Linked DNA regions of Homo sapiens: all the other regions are linked to region 1. The links come from fine-mapping of genetic effects on gene expression. A gene starts in region 1. Each other region holds a variant in brackets. All regions are shown on one strand. Distances are between the middles of the regions. Region 1 holds the start of ALCAM (activated leukocyte cell adhesion molecule). Region 2 overlaps ALCAM (activated leukocyte cell adhesion molecule). Region 3 has its middle 230 kb from the start of ALCAM. Region 4 has its middle 37 kb from the start of ALCAM.

The links.
Region 2: its variant is fine-mapped to the expression of ALCAM in Th1/17 cells (Schmiedel 2018, PIP 0.95).
Region 3: its variant is fine-mapped to the expression of ALCAM in whole blood (TOPMed, PIP above 0.99).
Region 4: its variant is fine-mapped to the expression of ALCAM in whole blood (TOPMed, PIP above 0.99).

The regions. Positions count from the first base shown.
Region 1 is chr3:105,361,745-105,369,987 of GRCh38, reverse strand. ALCAM (activated leukocyte cell adhesion molecule) reads right to left here and starts at 3,079. Exons shown (of 16, transcript NM_001627.4): 1 at 2,507-3,079. The coding sequence starts at 2,579. RefSeq lists enhancers at 57-557, 558-1,058, 1,395-1,554 and silencers at 2,585-2,704, 3,035-3,134.
Region 2 is chr3:105,409,371-105,417,613 of GRCh38, reverse strand. All of the region lies in intron 1 of ALCAM (activated leukocyte cell adhesion molecule), which reads right to left. Among named protein-coding and RNA genes, the nearest start is that of ALCAM, 47 kb to the right of the region's middle. The variant TG/G (reference allele first, on the strand shown) is at 3,370.
Region 3 is chr3:105,135,549-105,143,791 of GRCh38, reverse strand. No RefSeq gene overlaps it. Among named protein-coding and RNA genes, the nearest start is that of ALCAM, 230 kb to the left of the region's middle. The variant C/G (reference allele first, on the strand shown) is at 3,359.
Region 4 is chr3:105,326,235-105,334,477 of GRCh38, reverse strand. No RefSeq gene overlaps it. Among named protein-coding and RNA genes, the nearest start is that of ALCAM, 37 kb to the left of the region's middle. The variant C/T (reference allele first, on the strand shown) is at 4,815.

The DNA of each region.
Region 1 (8,243 bases):
TTTTTTTAAGCAATACAAAATGTCACCACAGGCTGACGCTCTTTCTACAAGAATAACGAGAATATTGCTATCTCGGATGTTGAACACACACTTCATTGCCTTCATCTCTGAATTCAGTTTTCGTGGTTCATATATTTTTCTCCTCCTTTCAAAACAGGTAACGTGGCACGCCTAAAATATATCAATGACTTTGTAGCGACTACAAGCCGAAAGACCCGGGGAAGCAGTTTCACAAACTCGAGTTTTTGACCTCTACAACTGGACATACACTATTAAAACTGCTCCGGAAATGAAGAGTGGCCGGCAGGGAAGGCAGTTACCCCGCTCAAATGAAGCCGGCCTTTGGCACCGCGCCCCCACCGGGCTCTGCTATGCAGAGGGCTCCGAAGAAGGCGCACTTACTGTCCAAGACTTGCTTCCTCAGTGTAGACACGGCGCCTTTAGTGCTGTAACCTTTCCTTTCAAAACACACTGATACTGCAATGAGAATTTCGGCAATGCCAGCTCGGTAATTCACCGAAACCACGGATCTGAGGGTCCAGGGCCGATATCGGATCCTCAGATTCACGGTGGCTGGTTGCGGTGAGCCGGGGCTAGCCGCTCGCCGAAAGCGCGCAGCTCGGTGCCCCCTGGACACACGAGCCTGTGGCGCCAAAAGAACCACCGTGAAGGAGGTCTGAAAGCGGAACTTTCCCCCTTTTAGCAGTTAAATGTGTAGAAAAACCTATCCTGCGACGTGGCCCGCCTGTGACGGCACCGAAAAGGAAACTGGTTATGTGCCTGTGTCAGGGGTGTGGACGAGGGTGAGATTACATTCTCCAAGTCTCGAGGGGGTTAATCGGAAAACCAACTGTGGGCGTGTGGACGTTTGCATGTTACAAACCGACATCACCCTTGTCCTCCCTTCTTGGCTCATTCCCTGGCTCCAAAGTGTCCTTTCCTCCATCGGACAGTGGAATCTCGAAAAAGTGAAATCCACACTGTGCCAGGCCCAAGGGGGTCTCGCCTTTCCACCTACCTCCCCAGCGTTGTTACACTAGGACACCTGCTTTAAATCCGGTTGAACTATGGTTTCACAGTCCCCGCCCCAGAGCCCGAGATTTGTCAGAGAACGCAGACGCCTTTTTTTTCCCTCAGCCTCAGAAACATCAGGTGAGCTCATTACCTCACCCAGAAATGTAACTTTAATAAAGAGATCTGGAGAGGGCACTCCTCCCGCCCACACACACAGCAACGGCAGCAGCAGCAGCAGCTCGCAAACACTTGTAATCTCTTCCTCAGGCTCTGGCCCCCAAACCCCTCTCCCCGCCAGTTCCTGGGAGAGATTCAGAGGCTTTCAAACCTCTTCTGTGACCTGAGCTTGCCGACAGCTGAAGGGATGTGCACGGATAAAAGGAAGTGAGATTTTTCTTTGATAAAAGCTAAAGAAAAAGCTAAGAACAAACAGGCCAAAATACCAGGAAGTAGGAGTTTAACTGGCAACTGTCTACGCAGGGATAGAAAAAAAAAACTTCAAAGAAAAAAAAATCCCCTAAATTTTCAGTTTAGGGGAGCAAAGGAACCTGCTGCTCTGTCAGGCAACTGTGAGCGCACGGAATACCCTGTTAGAACAACTTGTGTCAGCCGCCAGGCGGGCCTGAGGATACCAGGGCCAGGGGACGTCCCCGAGGGTGTGGAAAGGGATTTCCCGAGAGATATTTTAGTTGTTGGGAATTTTGCCTTTTCTCTCTCTCTCTCTCTCTCTCTCTCTCTCTCTCTCTCTCTTCCAAGACTCAGTACAGAACTGAGAACTGAGGCTCTATGAGCAGGTCCTGGAAATTCACAAACCTCTCACTGAGGTGTCTCCCAGGCCTACCTACTAATTCCTGTTCTGGCTGTGTTATCTGCCTGCGGTCACCCTTTCACTCACCACCCGCCCAGACAATGGACGGGGACCGCAGGGGGTAACGTTGAAACCACGATTTTAAGCTTTAGCAGGTTTCGCAAGGGGGGCGGGGGGAGGTGATTAAAGTCCTCTCCTTCTCTACCCCTCCCATCCCTTCCTCGGCTCACCAAGGGGAAGTTACTAGGGGATTTATCACGAAAAAGTGCCGGCAGTTATTTCATCCGAGAACTAAGCGAAAGAAAAACTGCTCGGGGCGCAGTGACGTGGACTTGGATACCCAGAGACAGGAGGAACTGTCAGAGGGCAAGAGTCCGCCGCCTAGCTGGGAGCCGCAGGGACAAGGGGAGAGCGTCAGGCGAATCCTGCCCACCCCGGAGCACCAAGTTCCTGGAGATTCACCCAGTTTCCCCAGCTTGATGCCCAAACTTGAGCTAACCAGCCAAGCCCAAACGTGCGGCACAGGTGACCGAGCCCGGGGACAGCTCTGTGCCAGGACAGCGGTCCCCTTACCTCCACCACGCGCCTGGGCGCACTGCCTCGGGGGTGCGAGGCTGGGACGGGGACCTAGGAAACTGCTCCAGGCCCACGTCTGTCTGGGGCTGCTCCCAGGCCCTTGCTCACCTGGCCTGAAGACGGTGGCGGAGATCAAGAGGCAGAAGAGCAGACGGCAGGAACTGGCCCCCTTGGATTCCATATTCCTCCTCCTTCTTGGTGGGCCACTGACGGAGTCCACGCCGCAGGAGGGGGCGTCGTCCCGGGCCCCGCGGTGCCCGCGCGCTGGCGGGTCCCGACGCAGGGGCAGCGTCTTCTCCCAGACACACCGTCCCCTGGGCTGTGGCGCTGCACCTTCGGTTCTCTGCCGCACGCAACTTTCCACCACGCAATGCCCCCAACTCCTCCTCCCTCCCGGTCAACACCAGCCCACGGGCCCTTCGGCTGCTCCTCCGGGGACAACGACCCTCTGTTTCCAGGAGACACTTGAGTAATTCGGAAAGGTGTAAGCGGTTCTTTTCGCTGGTATCTTCTTTTATTTTCCTTGTATTGGAATGATAATAATAATGGCAGTGGCAATGTGCATGAAACGCCAGGTGCTAAGAAGGACTCGCAGGAGGCGGCGACGGGGGGGCGGCGGGTCTCCTCAGGTGGCAGCGGTGGTAGCAGCGGCAGCGGCGGCAGCGGTCTCCGGGCTGCTCTGAGTAGAGGGACTGGAAGGCGTGTGTAAGCTGCCTCTTTCCTCCTCTCCCCGCCTCCTCCCTCCCTCCCGTCTCCTCCCCACTTCCCCGGACGCAGCGCAAAGCAGGTGGTTGAAGCGCGGATCCGCAGCCTAGAGGCGCTGCAGGACTGAGTCCGAGCCCTGAGCCCAGCTCCGGGATCAGGGAGAACCGCGTGCCCCGGTCCTGGAGCCCGGATGAGCGGTGCTTCACCGCGGCTCCGCCCCCAGGGCCAGGTCCGCCAATAAGAAGCAAGCACAGGAGCCGCGCGCGCCAGGGAGAGCCCTGGGACTAACACTTTCTGTGATGTTGCAGCGCCCCAGTGATAAGGCCTCTGGCTTCCAACTGCCCACCCACCCTCGCTGAGGTTTAAAAATCGACTGCCCTCTCCCTCCACCCATACGCCCATCCCACTGACTCATTCCTCAGAGATTTTTCTCCGCCGTGCTGCTGCAGCCTTCTGTCCTGTAAAGAGAATAGTGGGGCAGGGCGGTGGCGGTGGGGAGCGAACCTTGGGTCCAAGAGCGGGAGTGAAGGGAAAAGGAAAGGAAAGGGCAGGAGGAAGTGGCAAAGGTGGAAACTTGCTTCTTGGGAGTTAACAGGAATAGCTACTTGTTGGCAGGGGCAACCCCTGTACTGGACTGATTCCTCCTGTACTTTTCGAATCTCTCTCCTCCCCCTGCTCACCCCCACCACTCCCCTCACACCCGGCTGGCATAGACTTGGTTTTAAAGGAAGACTACGTGAGTCGACTGCCCGGTACCAACAGAAGATATTTGCTTTTCCCGGGGGAAATTAAATCCGGAATTTCTAAACCGTACTTCGTCATACGGATTTTCCCAATGTCTACAAAAGCCCTCTAGAGAGCGTGTCACTTTTTTACTTTGAGTTAAGCGGTGATTTTAAGTTATAGACAGAAAATCCTCAAATTATTTCAGATTAAAAGCCAAGTCCGTCTTGGTCCGTTCCCGAAAGCCAGGCACTCCAGCAGATGGACAGGCTTCTTAGGCAATTTCTAAAGATTGAACCACCTCCCAGGAGGAACATCGGGAAGCTGTGTTGCTTTCAAATCAGGCAGAGAGCATGAAGGAAGATTTTCCTCTAGAACACCGGGGTGGAGCTGTCGGAGCCCTAAGTGGCTCTAAATCAGGGATGCAGGATCACAACTCTCATCACCAAAGAATAATAAAATCTTGGTCCCTGAAGCACTTCGCTGGGGCATTAAATAGCCTTTCGTGCATCACAGGGTCACCCTTTTGTGAGACTGGTCTCCAGCAGAGGATGCCAACTAGTAATCGTTACATACTGCACTTTCATCAGAAAACTGCGAGTTACCAGCGAGATTGGAGACTCGCAACACACAGACACACACACACACACACACACTCACACACTGATTTTTAAAATTGTTTATCTTTTAGTGCTCTAAACTATTAAGCCCTATCTTCAGCTGTGATTTTTCTCAAAAGCCTGCTTGTCCTGTTCTTCCAGTTCTCCTTACATTAACAATATTCTAGAGTAGAGCTTTTATACCATATTTTTTTCCTCTCAAAATAAGTAGTTTCTCCCACTTGGTTTAAACATTAACATTTCATTTGCATCTTATGAATCAACAGGAAGGCTATCGCTAGGAGGCAAATGCCTTTTAACTCTATATTCCTTGAGCTAAGCTTGGCTGAAATGCTAGCATTTCCATGGACTCCTGTAGAATTGCTTTAGGGAATTGTTTTCTTTTTCACTGTGGTTGTAAGTGGGGTGTATTAGAATAAATCGACCTGACAATATATTTAACCTAGGTCCGCGAACGCTCTATCTGATCTCCTCTATTTTACGATGGGAGTTAATACAGCATAATTGCTTAAAGGTAGATTTGCAAAAGGAAGACTGATTTGGGCTCTGACACTAACTGTATGATCTTGGTCAACTCACTTAACCTCTTTAAGCTTCAGTCTCCTTTCTTGTAAAAAGTGATAATAGTGCTAGCCTCATGGGATTGCTGTGAAGATCAAATGAGATCAAACACACAAACACACACGTGGAATTCTGGGAGCAACTGACTATACAAATATGTACATATTATACTTATACACAAACACATGCATATATATATGGGCATATGTATAATATATATTTGAATGTGTAGTCCACTGCTTCCAGAATTGTTTTTAGAAAGGAATGTGTCCTAGTTTAGGAAAATGCCTTGATAAGCCACTTGGACTAGTAACTCCAAAGGCTATTGGTCATTAAAAAAAAATGGTGAAACGGCTCTATATTAAACAAAATAATAACCATGAAAATAGAAATTTGGCCTGGGAGTGGGGACGAAGGCAACAATACAAAGCATGAGTTTAGAAATGTTCAAAGGTCTTTAGATCTATTAATTAGCAACACTTACATGTTAGAATATTCTAAGCAATTTATATGAATTAATAGATGTATTCCCCTCATAAAAATTTATTGAAGGAGTTGCTATTTTCATCCTCATTTTACTCATGAAGAAACTGAAACCCAGAGACTCGAAGCAACTTTTCCAAGGTCACACAATGATTCATAGCAATGGTAAAGCCAGGGTTCTACCCAGGCATTCTGATTCTTGAACTGAATTCCTATCTACTTTGCTCATCACTATCCACTTTGCTTATCAAGAATGCGTAGCAATAAATGTATGGTTTTTTTGGTGGGGCGATTGATTTAAACATAAGTTCTCTCATCCTTTCACACACATTTTCATTAAGGAAATTTATTAATAAAGCAGCGCACCCTATCTGCGTAGGCCAGATACAGTGCATATGAGATGACAAGACCACTTCTAAACTGAAATAATGTAGCATAAGCAAGAGCTCAGAGTTAGAAATAAACATAAAAATGTAAGCTCCACAAAGTAATGTAATCGAATTAATCTTTCAAAATCTAGTCAATGTGGGATTGGATCCATCTTACCTAATTCTTGAGAGGAAGAGTGTTTCCAGCTACATGTAGATCACAGTCACTTTTGTTACAATTGAGAATACATAGTATTCCAATAATATTTATTGTATAGTTTAGTCATGCATCAGAGAATCATAAGGGTACATCTTGCTGAAAGGGAAAAATGAATAACATTTATCCAGGGGGAAAAAATTTCACGTTACCTGGGACATGAGAAGAGCTTTGTATTTTAAGTATAAAGGAATTCATCATCAATCAGGATGATATGCTCAAAAGCAGTGACATGGTACCGGAGGCAAGTTTCCTACTTACGGTCTGTTGAGATAAGGACTCAGGATTCCCAAGGCTCAGGCCAGGACCCCTTCCCTGTACTAAAATATTAATCCCATCAGTATGTGACAACATAGCCGAGTCAATTGTGTGTGCCTTTGAAGAATGGAAGTAGTTTTTCTCCCCTGATTAGCACCGCCAAAATTTCCACTGGAGATGAAATTTCAACAAAGATAGTTTTGGAAGCTGAGAACATTTGTTCCTACCACTGTATACCATTGTGTTTTGTTTGCCTTCCTACTCCTTGAACAAAATTGTATGCAGTTCCAGAGCATGCAACAAATCTGATTCACTCTTCTCTCCTTCAAGCGTCACCTACGGTGAATGCATGTTCAGCCATACTTAAAAATAGATTGGACACTTGATAAATTTTTGTGAATGGATGATAAGTGGTGAGAAAAATACCTAATGGAATATAAGCCTTCAAACCATCTTACAAGGGTTCATGATATGAGAAGATGAAAGGGGTTTCCATTGGGTCTTCAATGATTGGTCTAGGCAGACTAAGGTTTAGGAAAGGCAAAAAGAATGAGTCAAGTCCTAGTCAACAAGGTGATAACTATGAAGTATAAAGTGAGGAAACAATCTACAGAAGAAAGGCTGTACTAAAATTATATGCCATCAATTAGAATAAAACAAAGTGGCCCATGCTGAGCACAGAAACCTGATTAGTAAAGGTTCTAGGTGATCAAGCTAGGGCTTAGGCTAATATACTGATGACAAAGATTGAAATAAGGGCCTAAGTGGGATTTATATTAAGTCTAGGAAGAAACACAATCTTAAAGAGGCACAGAGATTACATCTGTATAATATAAAATTCTGTTTTATTCTAGACTCCAAGTTGTTTTTAAGTAAATGATTTCCAAAGTTATTGTATTAAATACACATGGAGGACCTCTGGGTATATCTCTTCCCAAGTCCATTGAATTTTATTGTTTAATTTCAGTTGTTAACAGTATCATCTGTCAATGAATTAATACAATTCTGCAACTCACCTTTTCAATAATGCCAGCTAATAAAGACATATCACTGAAGCTCAGGAGAGTAAAAACTTTCAAAGTCTATGATAAACATTATGTTCTTATTTCACAGAATGTTCAGTCTGGGTACAAAAAGAAATACATAGCTATTTCAGTTGAACTAGAAATCCACTTAGTCATTTTCCTTCCTGTCTCAGACATGAGGAATGAAGAAAGAATTTAGCTACGCTATTTGACTATGAAACTTACACTATATTAAATGAATTTCAAAAACTCTCAGTGTATTAAAAACTCATAATTTGTGGGTGATTTCAGTAAGTGTATAAATTTACATACAAAAAGTGTAAGAGTCTGGGTTTACCCCTTAACTTGAGGATTTCTCTTCAAAGTTTTCCCACTTTCAACTGAAATAAGCAGGTCTTTTAGTTTTGAGTAAGTAGAAAATGACTCAAGGTATGGCTATTTAAGTGTTTGATGCCTTTAAAGAAATTCCAACTTGAATTATATATTTTCAAGAAGTTTCCCAGAGTTATCTCTAATTTCTTTGATATATATTTATTACCCATTATGATCTGCAATAGTTCTATTCAGGAATATGAGGTGAATATATAATGACTGTAAAAATATGAAAATAATATATATTTGATTTTCTAAAGCAAAAAAGTCACTTTGGATCTAATGGATTTCTAGAAAGTCTAATTAATTAATTAATTACTAGGCCCCAATTTTCCATACTATTTTCCTCTTAAGTAAGATAGTTAAGTTCACAGGAAAGTATTAACAAACGATGGTTGGACAAATGTATGTTTTTGCTCCCTAAGGAGCAAAAACTCTATTATTGATTAACAAAAAAAGAAGTATTAATAACATGGAGTCAAGGATCACTGATCATATATTATAAGAAAGAAC
Region 2 (8,243 bases), 48 kb before region 1:
AAACAAAACAAAATCAAAGAAACAAGGCTAAAGAATTTGTTCAAAGTACCAGAGGTAGCAAGTGGCCGCGCTGGGATTTGAGCTTAGGTTTGAATGGTTAACAAAGCCTAGCATCTTCTCACTATAGTTTATTCATCTCATTCAACAATTATTTATATAATATATATAATACAAAATATCTATTTTTCATCTATGTTATATATACTTGGACCAAACTGATGAAAACAATGAAATTGTCTCTATTTTCAAGGAACTTAAAAATTAAATAGCAGACCCTGAATAAGAGAATACAACACAGAGAATGTAGTGTAAAAGTATAAAATTCTAGAAATTTTAATAAGTCAGCAGTGGGGTGAAATGGAAAGATATCAGGAAAGCTTCTGGAAAAAAGTCACTAGACTTGAAGAGTAAGTTTACCCAGGCGACATAAGAGCCTTCCTGGAAGAGGAAATGGGGTGTGTGAATGTCTCGGGTGGAAGTGGGGCTGGGAGACATTTTTGAAAATAAGGAAAGTTCAGAAAAGCCAAAGCTTGAGTACAAAGGTGATAAAGAGGAGATGAATGGCACAGGGGAATTAGGCAAAGGACATGTCATGCTGGGCTTTTATTATAGCTCATATCAAGGATTTTAGACTTCATATTAGAAGTTATGAGAGGCTACTGAGACATTTTAAGTAAGAGGTAACATGATCAGACTTAAATATTCCAAAATTCTCTCCAGCTCTATTATGAGTATGAATTGCACAGTATGCAAGGGAAATGTAGGGAGATGAGTTAGCTATTGCAGTAATTCAAGGAATTATGAAAATGAATTATATCTAATTTATTAACATTTATCAGTAATTCAAGGAAGAAGTTATCAGTAATTCAAGGAAGAAATGATGGTGGCTTGAACTTAAGAATACGGCAATGCATAGAAATAAGATGAGTGAAGATGTGTCAATGATAATTCAGGACATTGGTCTAAAAATTGGTCGAATGGTGGTAACATTTATCAAGAATGGGAACACAGGATGAGGAGCAATACGGAGCAATTGCATAATAACGGTTACTATTATCAATAATAATAATATGCAATTGCTGAACTATTACTGTGATCCATAAACTGAGCTAAGTATATTATATGTATTATTTATGGTGTGATTTTATATATAATTTTCTCACAACAATGCTCTGAAGCAATTATTCTTATTATCACAATTTTATAAGTAGAAAAATTAAGAACTGAAAAGTTTAGTAAATTGACCAATATCACATAGCTGGAATGTAGCAATGCCAACTATATAGGGTGTATTAAAAGAGTGTTAAGGAGATATTAAATGTTACATTTGGAAAAACACAGCTTCAGGCACATTAAAGTCTTCCCTTAAGGGTATAAAGTCTTACAGAGACATCCTAATGACTAAGTATCCTTCAATGTAAACAGTGATAAGGAGAGTCTTATCCTTAAGACTTATCCTTATCCTTAAGAGAAAGAACAAAGTCAAGTTGAGAATGACAGATGCAGCAAAGAATCAGGAGCCAGATAGAAGCTAATAAAAATGGGCTGAATTTGGGGACAAGGAGAGAGTTGCAAGACTGCCCCAAAGAGCTTTATCCAGCATATCTGGTTTGTCTTAGCAAATAAATTGCGCATGTCATACCTGGTTGCCTTAAATTATAGAGATACAATGGAGAATGTCAATTTGAAAAGCCAAAAACAAAATAATAAACTTTCTTTAGGCCCCAAAATATTTTAGTTTCTATATGTTTTAACTATACAAGCTACATATAGCATGACAGCAAAGCCTAGAAAATAAATTATCTTTGTAAAGTGTAATGATATTCATTTATGGTTGCATCAAAGCAAGCCACTAGCAAAAGTATAATGAACATAATATTTTGACATAAATCTGTGGAGGTAACTTGAAAAGAAAGAGGGCACAGAAAGAAAACAAATATTTTAGGAAAAATATATCACTTTAACAGAAATAAATAAAAGGTTATCGATTCAAAAAAACTAATTTATGTGTGACCAATTTGATGCAACATGCTCATTGTTATGGTTTCCAGAAGAGAACCAATAAATGTTTCTTTGGCTGATATTAATGTGGCCTTGGGGCTGATCATCAGGTTGTTTTCCTTTAAAAGAAAGCTGTTGTCAGTGGACAGAAATGTTTATTTCCTATGCAAAAGCTAATGCTGGGGATTTATTATTTGTTGATCTCAGCTTATCTTCTACTTTACACAATTTTTGCATGTCTTTTATTTGCTGGGCTTCCAAAGACAGCATGGACGCATCTATAAGATTTATTTGTATCAGGAAAACCATATGTTCCATACTTGTTCTTTTTGAGGCACTTCGTCTCAACTAATTAATCCTTAAAACTCTCTGAGACCAAAGGGATGAAAGCAAGTAATTATGTTTACAGAGAAAGCAAATTGAGGTACCTTTCCTGGAGTCTTTCAGTAAATAAGCACGGGAAAATGGACATCTATCAACTCTTCCAACATGTGCTCTAAAAAGGACTACGCTGCATGTTCAGGCTGCTAGACTTACAAGTCATTCGAAACACTGTTTAACAGAGGAGGCCAAACTATCCAGGCTGACATAGATCTCTTGAGTCAGCTCTATTTTCACAGCTGAGGCTCTAGGTCAGACGATATCTGCTTTTTCCCCTTATCTTCACATTAGCTTCCTAAATGCTCTCCCAGCTTTAAACTCACTCTCTGCAGACATATCTTAAACAATGGCATCAGGGTTATCTTTCTCAAATAAAAATTGGGTTTTTTCATTTCCTTGGTCAAAAGCCTTTGATGTATTCCCAATATATACAAAATAAGATCACACACCTTGGCCTAGAATTCAAGTCCTTCTTCAATATAATTATAAGTTATGCTTTTAAAATTTATGTCCCCCTATATTCTGACCCTTAGCTCATTTTTCACAAATAAACATAACTGCACATACATATAAGCACACCAGCACCCTACATTTCAGTACCCTGAACATGCTCTGAGCTTTCTCAAATCCAAGTCTTTCTTTGTTCATGCTGTTTTCTAGAGAGCGTTTAAACTTCATAGCAGCCTCCTCTTCCTTTCTAGGTCACTTGCATAAGGAGGCGTTCCAATTCACTCCATTCAGACAATCCTGTATTCCTATTCTATCTCACAGTTTCCTATTCTATCTCACAGTACTTTATTTTTGTTTGTTTGTTTTTGAGGCAGGGTCTTGCTCTGTTACCCAGGCTGAAGTGCAGTGGCATGATCTTGGCTCACTGAACCTCCATCTTCTGGGCTCATACAATCCTCCCACCTCAGCCTCCTGAGTTCCTAGGACCATAGGTGCGCAGCACCACACCTGGCTAATTTCTGCATTTTTTTTTTTTTT[TG/G]TAAGATGGAATTTCATCATTCCATCGGTTTTGCCCAGACTGGTGGCAAACTCCTGGGCTCAGGATATCCGCCAGCCTCAGCCTCCCAAAGTGCTGGGAATACAGGTATGAGCCACTGCACTCGACCATTTATGCATTTCTTCATATACTTTTACTGACAACCGTAAATTAACCTCTGTGTTTCTGTCAATCACTGGATTTTAAGTCACTAAGTAGCAGAACTATATCTAATTTATTAACATTCATCATCCCCCTTTGCCAGCATTGAACATGATGTTTTGCATATAGTAGGCATTAAATTTGCTAAATGGAACTAAATAATGTTTGATAAATAACATCATGGCACATGACCATATTAGGCCTAACTAATTATTTATTCTTCCATTTAGTGAGTGCAAAACTTTAGTCAAAAACATTAAACATACTATTTTCTAATTACCTTATTTTGCATTATTTAATTGAAAGAAAGTGTAATTAAAAGGAGGCCTCTAATGGACAAACACACATTGCAATAACAGCAGCTGTGGACACTTTACTTATTCAGTATTAAGTCTGTTCTATGTCAACTATGGAGATTCTTGACATTGTTACATCTGTACTTCCAAGCAACCTATTAGTTAGCTATCAATGATCTCATTTTACAGATTACAACTGAAGTTCAGAAATGGGCTAGGTGACTTATCCCACATCCATCTACTATGCACCAGAGGAGGAAGTAGATATCAAGTATGTTTGACTAGAGTCTGCGCATATTCTAGCCTACAGCACAATCACCCAGGTCTGTAAGATTGGAAAGATGTGCAAATGTGTAGAGAGAAGATGGAGACACTATTTTCTATTCTTATTTACAAGAAAATGTATACAGAAATTTAACATCAGAAGAAATACTGTACAAATATACACATATAACCTAAACTATATGGTGTTATCACATGCATTTTAAATCATATATAATAATTACAAAATGTTATCTCCACTGACACCTATCAAACATCAGTCACTGTATGAAGCACTTAATTCACTAATTAATTTAATCCTCACAAGGGCACTGAGATAAATAATATCATTATTCACATTTTACAGTCGAAGAAATGGAGAACTTAGAGATGTTACTAACCTGTACAAGGTCACGTGTCACTATGCTAGTTGGTGGTAGAACTTTTGTTTAGAACTGGGTCTACCTGAATGGCAAGATATATTTCTTAACTACATGCACAAATTAATAGAACCCAAGCAAAACTTAAGCATCTAAAACTGTTAAATTTAGATAAATATTTAATCATGTTTTGTTTATTATATGATGAGTGATTTATCGGCACAATGTTTATGATCATTTCCTTTAAAATCTTTCCTTGAGAGAAATTCTATTTAATATTCCTATTAACACACCCATCAGTTCTTATTTTGTATCTAATATAAAATGTTAAGCCCTTTGGATGAACATTATGTATTTTGTATTTTTATTCACACATATTCCAAGTATTTTCCAAAATTAGGTGGCTAGGAAAACTTTTTCTTAAGTTAAACAAAACGTCATTTGCTTTCTCCTCATGTTGACTTCTGGGGCTCAATGTAAGTTGTTTTTCTTCTGAAGAGCATAACACTTAAAACTGTAAATCATCTCACGTGTAAAAGAAACAATATGACACTTTCAACATTCCGATTCTGAATTACAATTCTTCTACTTCCCAAACGCAAAAGTGCAAATACAAGATTAATAATTTGCATAAAATGAAGTCCATATGGATCGCTAATTTTACTAGATTTGAGTATAAAATTATTCTCCTTTATTTTACCTCTAACAGTGTTACAGTGAGAGGAATACATCTGCTTAAATTTCAAGTACTGCATTTCAAATTAATTATAATTATATAGCTCAAGTATTATCTATCATATCAGTTCACAATGAGAATAAAGCACATTTGTTTCTAATTCTTTTTGACCTTGATGTTCTTTGTTTCACCACAGTCTTCAAGGTTATTAAGACAGAATCCTGAAGGAAACCAATGTCCTAATTATTTGGACACATAGATCTATTCCTCCCATTCTAATATATTAAACATTTAAGAATTACTTTATAAAACCATAGACCTGAAAATGACTCTAGAGGTTTATCCCTTCTTTCTCAGGGTTTTACTTATAGCATTTTATCCTGATGCTATTAGTCCTGACATTAAATGCCTCTAGGGGAAAAGATTCTATTTCCTCCTTCAGCAACCTGTTTCAGTTCATAAAAATGCCCTTATCAGTATGAGATTTTTTTCGCCTTTGCTCCTGTTTACAACATAAATTTTTTATATGTGATTAAATCATTTCTTATACTTTTCATCTTTAGAATAAAAATATTCTCCTCCTTAATTTTAGGTTATACTTCTTTTCTAGGTTATGGGATCCTAAACACAGAGGACTGTAGAGCTTTCTCTGTGTTCTCTCCAACATCAGAAGCTATCTATGGCAGCAGGTGCCTAGTCACCTGAGGATTTCTGTTGTCTTTTAGGCTGGAAGAAGTCCTGTTCAGCTCTCTTCAAATGACTACACAGCATCTCTAAACTTTGAGCACTGCATATCTATTCTCCCTTTGTCCCTTTGCTCATTTTTGATGAATAATATTCTCATAGACAGTATTCCCTAAGATGGGAATTACCCGTGTTACAAAGAGCGTTATGAAAATTAAATGAATGGAAACGTGTAAAGAGGTTAGAACAGTGCCTGCCACATAGTAACAGTTAATAAAATGTTAGCTAATGCTCCTGATGCCATTGTTACTATTCCTATTATCCCAGCTGCTGCTGCTGCTACTACTACCACTTCCACTGCTACTATCACTGCTACTGCTATTTCTACTGCTACTTCTGCTGCTGTGGATGCTGCTACTATGCAATGAAAAATGTACTTTCTTTTACCAAGTGGGACATCCAGAAGTGAACTGGAATGCCTTAATATATTGAGGATAACCTCCTCCTAACTCCCAGCTCTTCTGAATTGCACAGTTGAGCTGGGTTCTCCCTGATCAAATGATCTCTAACACAATTATTATCCACTTTATAAAGATACTGCAGCAAATTTATACAGATCAGGGACTCTAGGATCTCTGGCCCTTCACTATTCCTGAGATCTTTCTGACAGTCTGTCATGTTGTAAGAGCTGCATTAATGTTTTTCCATTACCATTAATAATTGAAAGCTCATCTAATAGAAATATCTTTCAATATTATATGATGTTTAACAACTCCATTAATGGGTTAGGAGAAGTATGGTATACACAAGTATAGAAAATTCTAGGGATAAACCAAATATGGAATTCCTTAAAAAGGTCTACAATGGGAAAAATTACACTTTTTCCTCTGTAAGTTGATGTCAAAGGGTGTTTTGAATATAATTATCATTTCATAACAATTTTTATTTTCAAAGTGCCCCACAATCATTTCTAATATTTATTCTTCATACAAACCCTCACAAGAGAGTACTGCATTCATCAAACATTTTTTCACAGATGAAGCAATTTAAGAATGGGTCAAAATGTGATTAGATTTCACAGTCTCTGAGTTGCTAGCCTGCTGTTAAGTCAATTGAACCTGCCTGCCTCGGAAAGGTAAACAGAATAAATGAGTTAGCATTTAGATTTACAAATGTATCAACAGTGGATCATAAAACAAGTTAGCAAAGCCTATATCCCCGGAGATACAGACAATACGGTGGTATTACATGGTGGTTCATGTATGTGTATATGTTTGAGTATTTATGTAGTACCACATAACTACATAAACACTCAGAGTGGTACTACATAAAGACTCAAACATACACACGTACATGAACAAGAAATGGACATTAACTCTTCTGACTTACTTCACCTTAAACCAATTCTAATTTTCAGATAGATTTTACGGTAGATGTCTTGGTAGACACTACCTTTTTTCCTCTAATTTAAGACAATTTGTCTTTGTGGTTATTAAGGTGGCCTAGCCAACCTGCCTTTCCCATTGTGCTAATTCTGGGTGACCCATATTGGCAATCTTGGAGACAACCTACAAATAGTATGGGTAGTCAGGTGGTTCTGTTACAGCATCAAAAGATGACTATGAGAGTAAAATAAAACCAGCACTGTAAAGATACAAGGGCCAAATTCAAGTTCCGGTTGGTACTCCTATTTTTAAAGATAGGAATAAATGTCATGACACATTTTCCCAAACTCACAGAATGTACAACAGCAAGCGTGAACCCTAATGTAAGCTATGGATCATGGGTGATAATAATGTGTCAACGCTGGGGTCATCAGTTGTAACAAAGTACCTCTCTCATGGAGCATGTTGATAATGGAGAAGGCTATGCACATGTTGCAAAAGGGGATATATAGGAAATTTTTGTACCTTTTGTTGAATTTTGGTGTGAATATAAAACATCTCTAAAAAATAAAGTATATTAGAAAATACAGATCAATCTGGCCCAAACTCGTTGTTTAGCTCCTATTGGCAATATATGATAAAATAATTCATTGATTGTTAGGACAGGAAATTTCTTTTCTTTTTAATTTTTTTTTAATTTCTATAGGTTTTGGGGAACAGGTGGTGTTTGGTTACATGAGTAAGTTGTTCAGTGGTGATTTCTGAGAGTTTGCTGTGCCCATCACCTGAGCAGTGTACACTGTACCTAATGTGTCATCCTTTATCCCTTGCCATTCCCCAGCCTTTCTCCTGAGTCACCAAAGTCCAATGCGTCATTCTTATGCCTTTGCACCCTTATAGCTTAGCTCCCACATATGAGTGAAAATATATGATGCTTGGTTTTCCATTCTTGAGTTACTTAACTTCGAATGATAGTCTCCAATTCTATACAGGTTGCTGTGAATATCATTATTTCCTTCCTTTTTATGGCTG
Region 3 (8,243 bases), 230 kb after region 1:
CACTGGCTGCACAAAATAAATATCTGAGGGAGTTTCTGAAGTATACCACAGTGTGGGCCCTACCCCAGAGGTACACTGTAAGCAAGAGTATTTTTTAAAAGCCCTGTAGTGCAGCCAGGTTTGAGAATATTTAGTTCACTATTTGAATGAAGGAAGGTAAAGATAAGAAAGGGAATGAAGAAGTAATGGTGAGGACTCAATATTAAAAAAGTTATTTTGTATATACTTGTTTTAAACTATTAAGTGTATTTATATAGTTGTTTTAAAAGATCAAACACACCTTCAAAAGGAAGTTTGTCACCACTCAAGGTATTCAAAAAAAAAGGTTACAAACTTAGAAGATATTTTCAGAGTATTTTGAGCCCTAGCACAATGGCTGGAATGTATATGGCTTCTACCAATACAACTATGTTGAAGGGGTACTATACAGCTGTAACCCACAATTCTTATTTGTTAAAAAACTATGTAATCCTATTAATTTTAATCCCTGTATAGTTAGTTACTAAGCTTTGTTTTAAAAATCCCAGTGGCATTTATTATGTTTTAAAAATCCCAGTGGCATTTATTATGTTTTAAAAATCCCAGTGGCAAAAACTTAAAATCGATGACAAGTCCGTATTTTTGTAAAAAGGAAAAATGGCAATTTTCTTATCCACACTCTCAGGTTCATTGCACTGTAACTTGTCATGGAAGCCTAATCCCGAGACATTTATCTGAAATACCCAAAGCTTTGCACATTTTCTGATATATAATCTGACTGTCTTAGTAGGTGACATTTCCCATGCTTTGGATATGGGCCCAATGTTTCTCTACTCTGCTGTCTGCTATTATATTTTTCTATCTTTTCCAGTTTCAATTTCACTATTATTTAGACAGCATTCAACTCTGTTCCAGCCATTTTATTTTCCTAAATTAGAGTTTTTCATTTTCAAATAATTGCTGAATATTCTTGATGCCATATGAGGGTTGTCATCTCTGATTCCTTTTCATATGTGAAGGTTAGGAAAATATATATTGGATTTTAACGGCTCCTTCCTCCTGTCTTTAATTTTTTAATCAATAAAAAAATGTGAGAGATAGATCACAATCCTGAAAAATATAACCAGGACAATATATTACCTTCATTATATCAAAGGAGATATAATATAGTCCTCAGCTATATTCCAAAAATTCATAATAGAATTATATTGTAAATATTATTTTAATATACTTAGAGTATATGATATGGTTCGGCTGTGTCCCCACCCAAATCTTACCTTGAATTGTTCCCATAATCCCCATGTGTCGTGGGAGAAACCTGGTGGGAGGTAATTGAATCATGGGAGCAGTTACCCTCATGGTGTTCTCATGATAGTGAGTTCTTGTGAGATATGATGTTTTATAAGATCTGATGAGCTTTCCCCTCTTTTGCTTGGCACTTCTCCTTGCTGCTGCCATGTGAAGAAGGATATGTTTGCTTCCCTTTCCACCATGATTGTAAGTTTACTGAGGCCTCCTCAGCCATGCTGAACTGTCAGTCAATTAAACCTCTTTCCTATATAAATTACTCTGTCTCAGGTATGTCTTTTTTAGCAGTGTGAGAACAAACTAATAGAGTATATTTATAGTAAAAATAAACACAATTAAGTATTAAAAATCATGCATTTAAAAGGAGCATTAACCATTTTAAAATAAACATTATAAATATCCTTTATAATTTTAATAGTATGTTTTTCTCTTGAGAATGTGCTGGGCTATTAGAAAATAACTGATACTAGACATAGTACTTTAATCTCTCAATTTCATAGAGAGTTAAATTTAAGAAAGAACATTAAATGTAATCTCTAGGGTACTGAACTGAGAAAAGTTTTTTTTCAAAGTATCTTGATTATTTTTCATATAGAATATCACTCCTTTCTCTCCCTGACCTCAAAGCCTAGCTGCTGATACAGGGGGAAAAATATTTAGATAAGTTTCTATGTTTTTATTTATACTCAAATGCATATAATTAAAACAATTTAATAGAGACTATAAACTTATACTGAAAGTTTGTGTATGCAACTAGAGATGTAAGATAATTACATCTCTAGTTGCTAATACACTGAATAGCTTTTAAATGATAATAATAACAAAGATAAAACTTACTCTTAGGAACTTAAGACCTTGATATTGCAGAGATCTTCAAGGTAAGCTCCAATTTTTTGAAGGGCAAGCCATCATATAAAAGCATGCTAGTATAAATGAAAAGTTAAGATGGGTTTATTTTTATAAACAAATTCACTTTTCATGTTTTATTTATCTTGAAAAAAGCCACAACATATTTCCAGAACTATTATGACCAGAGGCTGTTTTTGGAGGTACAGTGTGCACATAGCCAGCGTGCAAAGCTAGGCTGGTATGCCTGCTATTTCGTCCTTTGTATGAAGATTTTTTTTTTTAGGTGGTTGAACCATTTTGATTTGATAAGCACTGACCTGCACAGTGAGGATGTAACCTTCATTGCCTACCCTGGCATGTTTTTTTAAACAGCTAGGTAAACAAGATTCTTAATTGTGACATTTCCTATGAGCATGTGGTTTTGTTTTCAGCACAGAAGTATACATTCAGAGGATATTCTGAGAATTCTTGGCAATAATCTGAAATGACTTCAACAACTTGAACAAATTGTTCTTCTCCATTTGCTCAAATAATTATGTGTCCTTTTGGCTTATCTGTGAGAGTCCTGTTTACCTTTGATGTTGCTGGAATATTTCTCTGATCACGTGGTCAGAGTCTTTAACTTGTGTCTCAATTTTGTTACAAGTAGAAGCTTATTAATATCTAACCCTGTAGGCATTGCGGAAATATTTCAAAGACTCTTTAGCCAGCAGAAGTATGAGATATTTTCACTTCCTCAAAGTAATAACAATAATAGTTATCAATATTACTATAAAATAGAGAAAATGTTTTGGAGCCAGAGATTGTAGAACCTGATCTACATTAAACTTCTGGAAGATTGACTCTAGTTGGCCCACTGGAGAGTCTTTGTTAGGCAGTAGGTGCAGATGTGTGCTTCCTTTAATGAGCTATAAGCAGGACCCATGTGAATGCATGAACATTACCTCTGAAAGAATTAAAGAGGGCATCCAAGGTAGACCCCAAAATACATTCTCAGGGAAACTGGAATTTAAAAAAGTATGAAAAAGCTTGGAATCTGTGTTAAAAGAATACGAATTATATATAACTATAAGAACAAACATTACTGGTAAGTAAACAGAAATAATTTCAACATCAAGAATGCCTCAGTTAGGTGTTACATTCAATTTACACAAGAACAGACACTTATACTAGAAACATATGTTGTTAAAATAATTCCCATAGTCATTCTGGGGGAAGTAAT[C/G]TAATAGAACTCTTTATGTGCAGATGAGAAGATGTAAAACCATAGTGGTTAGGTAATTTTTTTTAAAGTCTGGAGGAACCATTGCTTAAGCTTCCTGCTCTACAAATCAGCTTAGACCATTTCACAAAGCCACTCTACCATTCTAATCATTTTCTTATATACTTAAAAGAAATTGTATTTCCCATTTTCTTTTGAAGTATTTTATTAACAAATGCAAAGTGTTTGATAATGGAATATCTATTAATTAGGCTAACATATTGAATTCTCATTTTGCTAAGAGAATATTTTCTTAAAGAGTTTTTATTCCCTCTTCTTTTACTTCCCTTTTTGAGGTTTTTCTAAGAATGAACATTTAAGTAGTGCTCTCAACATTATACACTCCTGAAAAAAGACATTTGCAGCCGGGCGTGGTGGCTCACGCCTGTAATCCTAGCACTTTATGAGGCCAAGGCGGACAGATCACTTGAGGTCAGGAGTTCAAAACCAGCCCGGCCAACATGGTGAAACCCCGTCTATACTAAAAATTCAAAAAATTAGCCGGGCATGATGGTGCACGTCTGTAATCTCAGCTACTTGGGAGGCTGAGGCAGGAGAATCGCTTGAACCTGGGAGGCAGAGGTTGCAGTGAGCCAAGATCATGCCACTGCACTCCAGCCCGGGCAACAGAGTCAGACCCTGTTAAAAAAAAAAAATTTGCTGTGATCAATGTCCTGCGGAAGTGCAGTGAAATAAAGGCTGCTCTAAAGATTTTAAGGCTTGCTTTTTTATTTCTTGTTATCAGTATTTGGTCTTTCTGAGAACAATGTCTGTAGTATAAGCTTCTTAGGGTTGCTGTAACGAAGTGTCACAAACAGGGTGGCTTAAACTACAAAAATGTATTCTTGCACAGTTCTGGAAGCTAGAAGTCTGAAATCAAGATGTCAACCGCGTTGGTTCCTTCAGAGGGCTGTGAGTTTCATCACTCTCTCCAAGCTTCTGGTAGCCTCAGGGGTTCCTTGGCTTCCAGTGTCTTCACAGCATCCTCTCTGTATGTCTGTCTTTGTGTCCAAAATTCCCCTTTCATAAGGATATAGTCACATTAGATAAGGGCCAACTGTAATGACTTCATTATAACTTGATCATCTTCAAAGATCCTACTTCCAAATAAGGTCACATTTGTAGCACTTTGGGGATTAGGGCTTAAACATCCTTTTTTTTGTCTTTTGAGAGAACACAATTCAATCTATAACAATGTCATATCCAGGGTTAATGAACATATAATAGCCATTTATATTCTGATGTTTGTAGACCATTTCATTTGATCATTTCCATTAGTTTTTAAACATAACCCAATGACTAACAAAAATATCTTCTCTCATTTCAATATCCCACCTAAAGATATTTCTATTTTTATCACCTTACAATTGCACTTCTTAAAAAAAAAAAAAAAAAAAGCAACTATTCTATGTTTGTGGTCTCTATTCTCTCTCATATCCCACATTCACTTTTCTTTTTTCTTTTCTTTTCTTTTTTTTTTTTTTTGGCAAAAACTTTTTTTTGTTTGTTTGTTTGAGATGGAGTTTTGCTCTTATTGCCCAGGCTGGAGTGCACGTGGCACAATCTCAGCTCACTGCAACCTCCACCTCTCGGGTTCAAACCGTTCTCCTGCCTCAGCCTCCTAAGTAGCTGGGATTACAGGCACACGCCACCACACCCAACTAATTTTGTATTTTTAGTAGAGACAGGGTTTCACCATGTTGGCCAGGATGGTCTTGAACTCCTGACCTTGTGATCCACCTGCTTCAGCCTCCCAAAGTGCTGGGATTATAGGCGTGAGCCACTGCGCCTGGCCTCACATTCACTTTTCAGCCCACTGTAGTATGTTTTTACATTACATCACTCTGACAAAACAGCTCTTAATAAGGTTAACAATGATCTCCATTTTGCTAAATTCAAGATTTTTCCTGTCCTCAATTTGCTTATCTCTTCAGGATCATTGTTCAAAGAAGCAATCTACAAGGGGCCTTAAGCATCCCTGTATGTTCTTCCTGGGCATGCTGTGAAAGCAAAGCCCTTGCTATACTTTACTTGGGCCATTTCTCTGGGTTGTATTTCCAGCAAGCAACCCTGAGAAATAAGGTAGCATTTTCCAAAAGAAAAACCACATACTTGTTTCCACTTTACCATATAAGTGGTGAATCTTCCAAACTTCCTAAGTTTCCCTCCAGTAATGCAACCCACTGCATGTGCAGGCATCCATTATGGGCACTTTGTGTTATTCCATGGACCTGGAGGATGGGGGAACCCATGCAAGCATCATGTTGCCCTCTGAACTACTGTTTGTGCTATGAATAATGCAGTCCTTTGTCTCTGAACCAAGAGTCATGTGTTTTCTGACAGCTTTGCTAAAATAGTAACAGACTAACTTATTAGCTTGCAGATGGTGAAAACTCACAGAATCTTTGTAGTTCCTGATAATTATTTGATATTATTTGGCATTCTTGAAATGCCACCTCTCTGACCATGCCGTTTTGGTTTCTCTTGCAAGCAGTTCCTTTTCTACTGGGTCACCAAATCCTGTAGATTTTTGAAGCCTTAAAATAACTTTTTCTGTTATAGTCTCTCACTGAGAGACTTAAACACATCCACAGTTCTAATTACTGTGGTGGTGTTCAGATTTATTTCTCTAGCCCAGAGCTCTTCTCTGGGCTAGTTGATCCAACTACTGATTTGACCTATCACTTGCATATTTTCAAGATATCATTAATTCATGACATACATGACCATATTTGTGGTCTTCCTCTTCTATCCTTGTCCTCTTTCATTATTCCGTCTCATAGTAAACAAAATCTTCATTTATTCATTTGCTCAGGTACTCTCCTACTGTATCCCTAACTCTGCCTATCTAATCCATCACCAAGGCCAATTAATTACCTTTATCATCTCAATATCCATGGAATCAGTTTTTCTTTTTATTGTTACCTTCACTCGGTCCTTACCTACTATTAGTGGACCTCCTAACAAGTTCCTCTACTTTCATTCTGCTCTTGCTCCTATCCATTCTTCAACTGAAGCCAGAATGAGTGATCACTTTAAATCTTACGTTGTTCAGTCAGGAGGAATAAGTTCAAGAGATCCACTGGACAATATGATGACTACAGTTAATAACAATATATTGCATATTTGAAAATTGCTAAGAGAGTAGATTTTACGTGTTCTCACCACAAAAAATGATAAATATGTGAGGTAATGCATATGTTAATTAGCTCGATTTAGTCATTCCACAACATATACATTTTTCAAAAGTCATGGTGTACACCACAAACATCATATACAATTTTTTTTTGCCAATTAAAAAATAAATTTAAAAACTCACATTGAATCATGTTACTCCCTCACCCCTCCATCCCTGTTTAAAACCTTCATTGCACTTAAGGTAATATAATCAGTTGACTGGTATTCATTCTTTTTATTGCAGCCCATTTAAAGCCTTCAGTGACTTCCCAGTCAGATTTGGATCCATTATTATACGGTCAGATATAACCTTGTTTTCTTCCTTTGAGGACTTTTCATTATTATTTTATTGGCATGATTATTAAATTAATGTCTATTTCCCTTCTCAGACAGTAAGTTCTATGCGAGTAAAGACCACTGTTTGAGTTAGCTCACATTGTAACTAGTAGTGCTTGTCTCAGAATTGGCACTCATATATTTCAGACTAAACAAAAGAGAATGAACACTTCAGAGAAATAGCCACTCATTTTTTCTTATTTTTTTGGTTGTACTTTAGCTAACAATTGGTACAGTAGCCAAGACAGTATTTTAAAATTATAAATCAAACCATGTTACGCCCTTACTTAAAACCCTCCGTGACTTCCCATCACACTTAGAATGAATCCAGATTCCTTACCTTGACTGTAAAGTCTTACATGATTTACTCCCTGGTTAACCCATGGCATTTCCTTTAGCACTCTTCCTTTCACCCACTTCCATAAAGGCACACTGGGCATTCCTCCCTCATTAGCACACAGAAGCCCATGTGCCAACTGCTCCCCTTAATCTTTCATTGATTTATTTTGCCACTTGGTCTCAACTTAAATATCAACTAAAATTTATCTGTCAATCAAATCTTAGGCAGTGGTTCATTCTTTCCTCAGTACTTTTCACAATTTAGTACCTTTTCCTATCTGCTCGTCTATTTATTTACCATCCAAGTTCTATCACCTCTATACACACGAAAACACAGCCCTAACCACTTTCTTGTTCATTGCTGTATCCCCAGAACTTATAAGAGTACCAAGTACATTGTAGTAACTCAGTGCTTAATTGCTGAATAAAAAATATATATTAAATTCATGGATCAGGTAGTTTCCACCAGTGCCTTTGGTTTAGGAAATAAAAACAGCTTCTTATATGACCAAATGTAAAAGTAATATGATTTCCATCATGGCTCATAACAATTTTTATAATTTGGAGTTTGTCTTCAAATCAGCAGAGAATCAGTACGCTTGACTTTTCTGTTTACTTCATCACTGATTTACCTGGGGAAACAGCTGCCTATAGCCCCTTAGCAAAGTAAAATTAAGCAAAGATTTAAACTAATGTGACAGAATCTTTGGATATCCAATTTGGGGTTAGTGCAAATCCAGAGGAGGCAAAAGATCACCTAACACTCCTCCAGTCTTCAAATGTACCATCCTGTACTCTCTCCGTGTTTGGATTTGAAAGCAACAGCCTGCACAACCAAAGACACTTTATCATCTTGTGAAAAGTAGAACTTAAATATTTCAGCCTCTTTACCTTTGAAATATGGATGATTTCTTTTTCCTTTTTTTTCTAGTTCTATAAAGGTACTACCTTGAGCACTCATACACAGCCCATTTACCTCTGCTTTATTTATTATTTT
Region 4 (8,243 bases), 36 kb after region 1:
TAAATTCTAAGCTTTCATGGAAGATTTTCTAGAAAGCTCTATGAAGATCACTTCTCTCAGAAACATACTCCTTATTACCTGTTCCTATCTTAACTTTCTTAAATCTGACTTCAGTCTTTGCCAGTGTACTGAAACTGTGTTGTGGTTTCCTTCTTGCCAAATCACAAAACATTTCCTCTGTATTCATATGGAAACTGCTTCTTTAACTTCAATATCACTGATCTTTTCTTGCTCTATTTCTACAGCTTTGTTAGAACAAATCCAGTGGCCCTTTCACAGTCCCTTACCATTGATTCCTTGTTTTCTAGCCAGGGGTATTAACAAAGACCCAAGTTGTAGACATCTTTCTTCTTTTTGTCCATTTTTGAAAAAGCCCCTCCTTCCCTCACTCCCTTCTTTCCTCTGTACCTCCCTCCCTCCCTTCCTTTCCCCTTTTATTTCCCTTTGCCTTTCCCCTTCCTTTCCCTTCCCTCCTTTCTTTTTTATTTTTTCTTTCCTAGCTCCCTCTGTTCCAATCTCCCTGTGAACCTAAAGTTTGCTGTTAGCTTAGTTTTTAGTGGTAATCTTTCTTTAAACAAATGTCCTTGATGGATAACTGTAGCTCATACATGTTTAAGTAGTACTCCAAATTCATACTAACCCTACATTTTTATCCTATTGGCCAGTTCCACTTGATGTCTTATAGCATTGCATCAGAATAAGCTAGATTAAAACTAACATTATCAACATAATTGTCACTATGATACTCTTCATTTTTGTCATTGTCATCTGCCTACAATCAGATTCTCAGCTCTTGAAAATTCTTCTATTCTGTTTCAATATACATCCTATTTATTTATATTCATAGTTGACACTTAATAATTGTGCATGTTTATGGGGTACAATGTGATGTTTTGATACATGTATAAATTGTGTAATGATCAGTTCAGGACAATTAGCATAATCCATCACCTTAGACATCATTTCTTTGTGATAAGAGCATTAAAAAACCTCTCTTCTAGCTATTTTAAAACACACAATGCATCATTATTATCTCCAGTCATCCTCCTATGCAATAGACCACAAGAATTTATTCTTCCTAATTGCAGCTTTAAATCTGTTGATCAATCTCTCACCACCTACCCTCTCCATCCTCTACTCTACTACTACTCAACTTTCTGCTTTCATAAGAGCTATTTTTCAGATTGAATGAGATCATGCAGTATTTGTCTTTCTGTGTCTGCACTATTTCACTTAACATAATATCCTCAAGTTTCATCCATGTTGCAGCAAATTACAGGATTTCACTCTTTTTAATGGCTGAATAATATTCCCTTGTATAGATATACCACATTTTCTTTATCAATTTGTCTGTTGATGGACATTTGGGTTGATTCCATATTGTGGCTATTGTGAATAGTACGGAAATAAACATAGGAGAGCAGGTATTTCTTTGACATACTGGTTCATTTCCTTTTATTAAATATCCTGTAATGAATTAACTGGATCATGTGGTAGCTCTAATTTTAGTTTTCTGAGAAACTTTCATACTGTTTTCTATCATGGTTGTACTAATTTACATTCCCTGAAGCAGTGTAAAAGAGTTTCCTTTTTTTCCAAATCCTCAACAACATTTATCTTCTGATTTCTTTGATAGTAGCCATTCTCACTCAAGGGAGGTGATACCTCACTGTAATTTTGATTTGCATTTCTGTGATGATTAGAGATGCTGAACATTCTTGCACATATTTATTGGACATTTGCATGTCCTCTTTTGAGAAATGTATCTTCAGGTCTCTTACCTATTGAAAAAGCAGGTTACTTGTGCTTTTGTTGAGTTGTTTGAGCCCTTTATATACTTTGGATACTAGCCCCTTATCAGATTTATAATTTACACATATATTCTCCCATTACATAGGTTATCTCTTTGCTCTGTTGATTTTCTCCTTTGCTGTGCAGAAGCTTGTTGGCTTGATGTAATCCCATTTAACTATATTTGATTATATTGCCCATGTGTTTAAGGTTTTATCCAAAAAAATCCTTGCCTAAACCAAGCTCTTTCTCTATATTTTCTTCTGGTAGTTTCATAGTTTTGGGTCTTACATTTAAGTTTTTAATCCATCTTGAGTTAATTTTTGTATGTATTAAGGAATAAGGGTCTAGTTTTATTCTTCTGTATGTGGATATATAGTTTTCTCAGTACCATTTATTGAGAAGGGTGTCCTTTGTTCAGTGTATGTTCTTGGCACGTTTGTCAAAAACAAGTTGGCTGCAGATGCATGGGTTAATTTCTGGGGTTTATGTTCTGTTTCATTTGACTATGTATCTGTTTTGTTTTTGTTTTTGTTTTTATGCTACTACTGTCCTGTTTTTGTTGCTATGTCTTGTAGCATATTTTAAAACCATGTACAGACATCTTCAGAACATTCTTTCCAAAGCTCTAGAATACACACATTCTTCTCAATGGCCCATGGGACATTCTTCATGATAGATTACATGGTAGGTCACAAAACAAGTCTCAGAAAATTTTTTAAAATTAAAATCATATCAAGTGTTCTTCAACCACAATGCAATAAAACAAGAAATTATGACAAGAATTTAAGAAACCTTTCAAATACATTGAAATTAAACAACATTCTTCTGAAGAACTGATGGATCAGTGAATAAATTAAGGAGGAAAATTTTTAAATTCTTGAGATAAGTGATAACGAATACAACATATCAAAACCTGTAAGAGATAGCAAAGGCTGTTCTAAGAATGCAGTTTATAGCAATTAATTCCTACATGGAAAAAATGGAAAGATCTCAAATAATCTACTTAACAATACAACTCATAAACTAAAAAAAAAAAGAAAAACAAATCAAATGCAAAATAAGTAGAAGGAAAGAAATAATAAAGATTCGAACATAAATAAAATAGAAAACTAAAAAAATTATTAAAAAATTATAAAAGATCATTCCTTGAAAAGATTATACTGAGAAATCTTTAGTTAACCTATGGAAAAAAGATATAAGACTCAAATAAATAAAAGCAGAGACAAAAAGGATCATTACAACTAACACTACAGAAATACAAAGGATCATTTGAGACTGGTTTTTTTTTTTTTTTTTTTTTTGAGACAGTCTTGCTCTTTCAGCCAGGTTGGAGCACAGTTGCATGATCTCGGCTCACTGCAACCCCCGCTTTTCAGGCTCAAGCAATTCTCCTGCCTCAGCCTCCTGAGTAGCTGGGATTACAGGCATATGCCACCATGCCTGGCTAATTTTTGTGTTTTTGGTAGACATGGGGTTTCACCAGGTTGGCCAGGCTGGTCTCCAACTCCTGACTTCAGGTAATCCACCCACTTTGGCCTCCCAAAGTGCTGGGATTACAGGCATGAGCCACTGCACCAGCCCATTTGAGACTATTATGAATATGATATACCAACAAATTGGAAAACTTAGAAGAAATAGGTAAATTCATGGTGGACACATACAACTTACAAGATTGAGCCATAAAGAAATAGAAAATTTGAGCAGACCAATAATGAAGAAAAAAATTGAATAACAAATATTATAAAGTTGCAAGATACAAAATCAATGTACAAAAATCAGTAGCATTTCTATACACCAACAGAGAACTATCTGAAAAAGAAATCAAGAAAGCGTTCCTTTTGCCAGTAGCTACAAAGAGCACATAGGAATAAACTGAATTAAGGAAGTGAAAAATATTTACAATTAAAATTATAAAACATTGATGAAAGAAATTAAAACAGACACAAAAAATGAAAAGATATCCCATGTTCATGGATTAGAAGAATTTATATTGTTAAAATGTTCATACTACCCCCAAAAAATCTACAGCTTCAATGCAATCTCTATAATAGTAATGAAATTTTTTCATAGAAATAGAAAAACCAATCCTAAAATTCCTATGGAAGCACCAAGGACTCTGAATAGCGAAAGCAATCTTGAGCAAAAAGAACAAAACTGGTAGCATCAGTATAAGTTCTTTTGCAAAACAAGCAAGCAAGCAATCAAACAAGACCATTGGATTGATCCTTTGAAATGTATCTCAGATCTCACTGCTTTCAACTTTGTCTGACTCTTATCATCTTATGATAGTACCAACGGTTATGGTTTCCTAATCATTCTTCCTGTCATTAGTTTCTTCCTTTTTCCATCCACCTTATATATATTATAAAATCCTTCACATGAAAAATTTATGTAACGCCTAATATGTAAAACACTGAATTAATCATGTTATTCCCAATTATTACATATTCCAATAATTTCTCTTTGAATTCAAACTCTTCAATGGGGCATTTAAGATGGTGTGCCATCTGATTGAGATTTCTTTCTATAGTTTGGCCATGCATTTGCTTGAGTCAAATTCTCTTCTTGTTTTAAAGTTCAATAATAAAATTATATTTTAATTTTATTTTTAAAATTTTTTCTTTAATAATTCTAGCCATCATGTCTCCTGTTTCTCTTAATTCTGACAATTTGTGCTACACATTTAATATCTCTCTCCTATTCCATATATTATCTATTCTAAAATACTGATTTAACATTTACCATATGCTAAATAAATACATGAAAAACTCAAAATATTCCCATTAGTATCTCTGTTCTAAAATCTAAGAAACTAAAGCTTAGAATGTTTAAACAGTTGTCCCAAATCAATACGCAATACATCTAAGATTCAAGTTTTGACTTTAAAAGTATGATTTTCTAGTATATTATACTGAGGTGTTTCACCTTGTATTATTACAAGGTTTTTTTTTTTGAGATGTAGTCTTACACTGTCACCTGGGCTGGAGTGCAATGGCATGATCTCGGCTCACTGAAACCTC[C/T]GCCTCCTGATTTCACGCGATTCTCCTGCCTCAGTCTCCTGGGTAGCTGGGATTACAGGTGCACACCACCACACCCGGCTAACTTTTTGTATTTTTAGTAGAGACGGGGTTTCACCATGTTAGCCAGGCTGGTCTCGATCTCCTGACCTCGTGATCCACCCGCCTCGGCCTCCCAAAGTGCTGGAATTACAGACGTGAGCCACTGGGCTCGGCCAATTTTTTTTTTCCTTTTTTTTTTTTTTTTTAGATGGAGTCTCACTCTGCTGCCCAGGCTGGAGTGCAGTGGCACTATCTCAGCTCACTGCAAACTCCGCCTCCTAGGTTCAAGTGATTCTTGTGCCTCAGCCTCCTGAGTAGCTGGGATTTACAGGCATGTGCTACCATGCCTGGCTAATTTTTGTATTTTCAGTAGTGATGGGGTTTCACCATGTTGGCCAGGCTGGTTTTGAATTCCTAACCTCAAGTGATTCACCTGCCTTGGCCTCCCAAAGTGCTGTGATTACAGGCATCAGCCACCACGCCCAGCTACATCAGCATTTAATATAATCTTTGATGAGGAGAGTGTAAGAAAAACATCAATGCAATGAATGAGTGGATGAATATTTTAAGACTTTAAGTCTAGTGCTCCCAATAATTTAAGTTGCTTGGGAGCAACTAAACATAAAATCTTAAGTTTAAGTTTAAGATTTCAAGTTTAGTTGCTCCCAAGCAACTTAAAATATTTGTTCTTGTCTTATACTAATGTATATATCTTTAATGGCATTACAATTGTAAGCATTATAATTGCTAGTGCTTATTGAAACTTTACTAGTGGTTGTATGTTACATGTGTTTTCTTATTTAATCATCAAAATCCTCATTAAATTATTTTTTTCAATTTGCACTTAAAGAAACAGAAGTTCGAAGAAGTATAAAAAGTTGCCAATGGGTACATAGTAAGTGCCATAGCCAAAGATTATATGTGGCTACACTCACTTCTTATTCTTGTCCACTTCACTGTGCAGCTTTGCAATAAATACTCAATGATTAAATACATGTGCCCTCCTGAGCTCTCCTGGGGATTTCAAAGAACTGAATGCCAAAAGTTATCTGAAAACAAGCCTGAACACATCGTTTACCATGTAAACTGAGGTGGCTGACTCTATTACAGTGATTCATTTTGCTTCTGGTGGTGTTGCACATGTGGTGCCCAAAGGTCTCATTTTCCAAGTCAGTTTGTCTGAGTGACCATTTGGACCTTTCTTGCTTTCCCTCTGGGAATGGCTGAAGCCATTATTCTCCGCTGTGCTTTGACTACAGGGTGAGCCAGAAATCACAGGAAAATGTGTGCATCCTAAATCAGTGTGCATATTTTGGGAAAATAGGATAAATGTGTAAAATTACTGCCTATTTAAGTATTTGTGTATTTCTACAACATTTGTTACAGTCAAATTGTAAACATGAGCTGCAATTGTGAAATTTGTGTCTTAAGTTATTACAAGTATACCTTGGAGATATTGCAGATTTTGTTCCAGACCACTGCAATACAGCAAATATTGCAATAAAGTGAAGTGAGTCACACAATTTTTTTTTTGTTTCCCAGTGCATATAAAGTTATGGTTATACTGTACTGTAGTCTATTAAGGGTGCAATAGCATGTCTGAAAACAATGTACAGACCCTAATTTAAAAGTACTTTATTGCTGAAAAATGCTAACAGTCATCTGAGCCTTCAGCTAGTGTCATTTTTTTTGCTGGTGAAGGGTCTTGCCTAGATGTTAGTGATTCCTGACAGATCAGGGAAGTGGTTGCTTTGCTGAAGGTTGGGATGGGTGTGGCAATTTCTTAAAATAGGACACCAGTGAAGTTTGCCACATTGACTGACTCTTTCATGAAAGATTATCCTTAGAATATGATGGTGTTGGTAGCCTTTTACTCACAATAGAAATTTTTTTCAAAATTGGAGTGAAACCTCACAAACTCTGCTGCTGCTTTGTCAACTAAGTTCATGTAATATTCTAAAGGCTTTGTTATAATTTCAACAATGTTCACAGGATCTTCATCAGGAATAGATTCCATCTCTAGAAACCACTTTTTTGGCTCATCTGTAAAAAGCAACTCCTCTTCTGTTCACATTTTATCATGAGATTGCAGCAATTCAGTCACATCTTCAGGCTCCACTTCTAATTCTAGCTCATGCTATTTCTACCACATCTGCAGGTCCTTCTTCCACTGCAGTCTTGAACCAGTCAGGTCTTCCATAAAGGCTGGAATGAACTTCTTCCAAACTCCTGTTAATGTTGATGTTTTGATTTACTCCCATGAATCACCAATGTTCTTAATAGTGTCTAAAATAGTGAATTATCTCTAGAAGGTTTTCAATTTACTTTGCCAAAATCCATTAGAGGAATCACTATCCATGGCATTTATATGAACTATACTTCTTAAATAATAAAACTTGAAAGTTGAAATTACTTCTTGGTCCATGGGCTGCAGAATGTATGTGGTGTCGGCAGGCATGAAAACAACATTCATCTCCTTATATATCTGCATCAGAGTTCTTGCATTACTAGGTGCATTGTCAATGGGGAGTAATATTTTGAAAGAAAATTTTGTTTTCCAAGCAGCAGGTCTCAACAATGGGCTTAAAATATTCTGTATACCATGCTGTAAAAAGTTTTGTTGTAATCCAGGTCTTAATTTATAGAGTACAGGCAGGGTGGATTTAGCATAATTCTTAAGGCCCCTAGGATTTTCAGAATGATAAATGAAAACTGACTTCACCTTAAGATAACTGGTTGCATTAGCCCCTGGCAAGAGAGTCAGCTTGTCCTTTGAATCTTTGAAGCTGGGCATTGACTTCTCCTCTTTAGCCCTGAAAGTCCTAGATGGCATCTTGTTCCAATAGAAGACTGTTTCATCTACACTTAAAATCTATTGTTTAGTGTAGTCACCTTTATCAATTATTTTAACTAGATCTGGATAACTTGCTGCAGCTTCTATATTAGCACTTGCTGCTTCGCCTTGCACTTTTGTGTTCTGGAGACAGTCTCTTTCCTTTAATCTCATGAACTAACCTCTGTTAGCTTCAAACTTCTTCTGCAGATTCCTCACCTCTTTTAGCCTTCACAGAATTAAGGAGAATTAGGGCCTTGCTCTGAATTAGGGTTTGGCTTATGGAAATAATGTGGCTGATTTGATCTTCTATCCAAACCACTAAGATGTTCTTCATATCAGTAATAAGGCTGTTTGGCTTTCTTATCATTTGTGTGTACATTGAAGCAGCACTTTTAATGTTCTTCAAGAACTTTTTCTTTGCATTCATAACTTGGCTGTTTGTTGCAGGAGGCCTGGCTTTCTGCCCATCTTAGCTTTTGTCATGCCTTCCTCACCAAACTTAATAATTTCTAGATTTTGGTTTAATGGTTTAATGTGAGAGATGTGCAAGACCT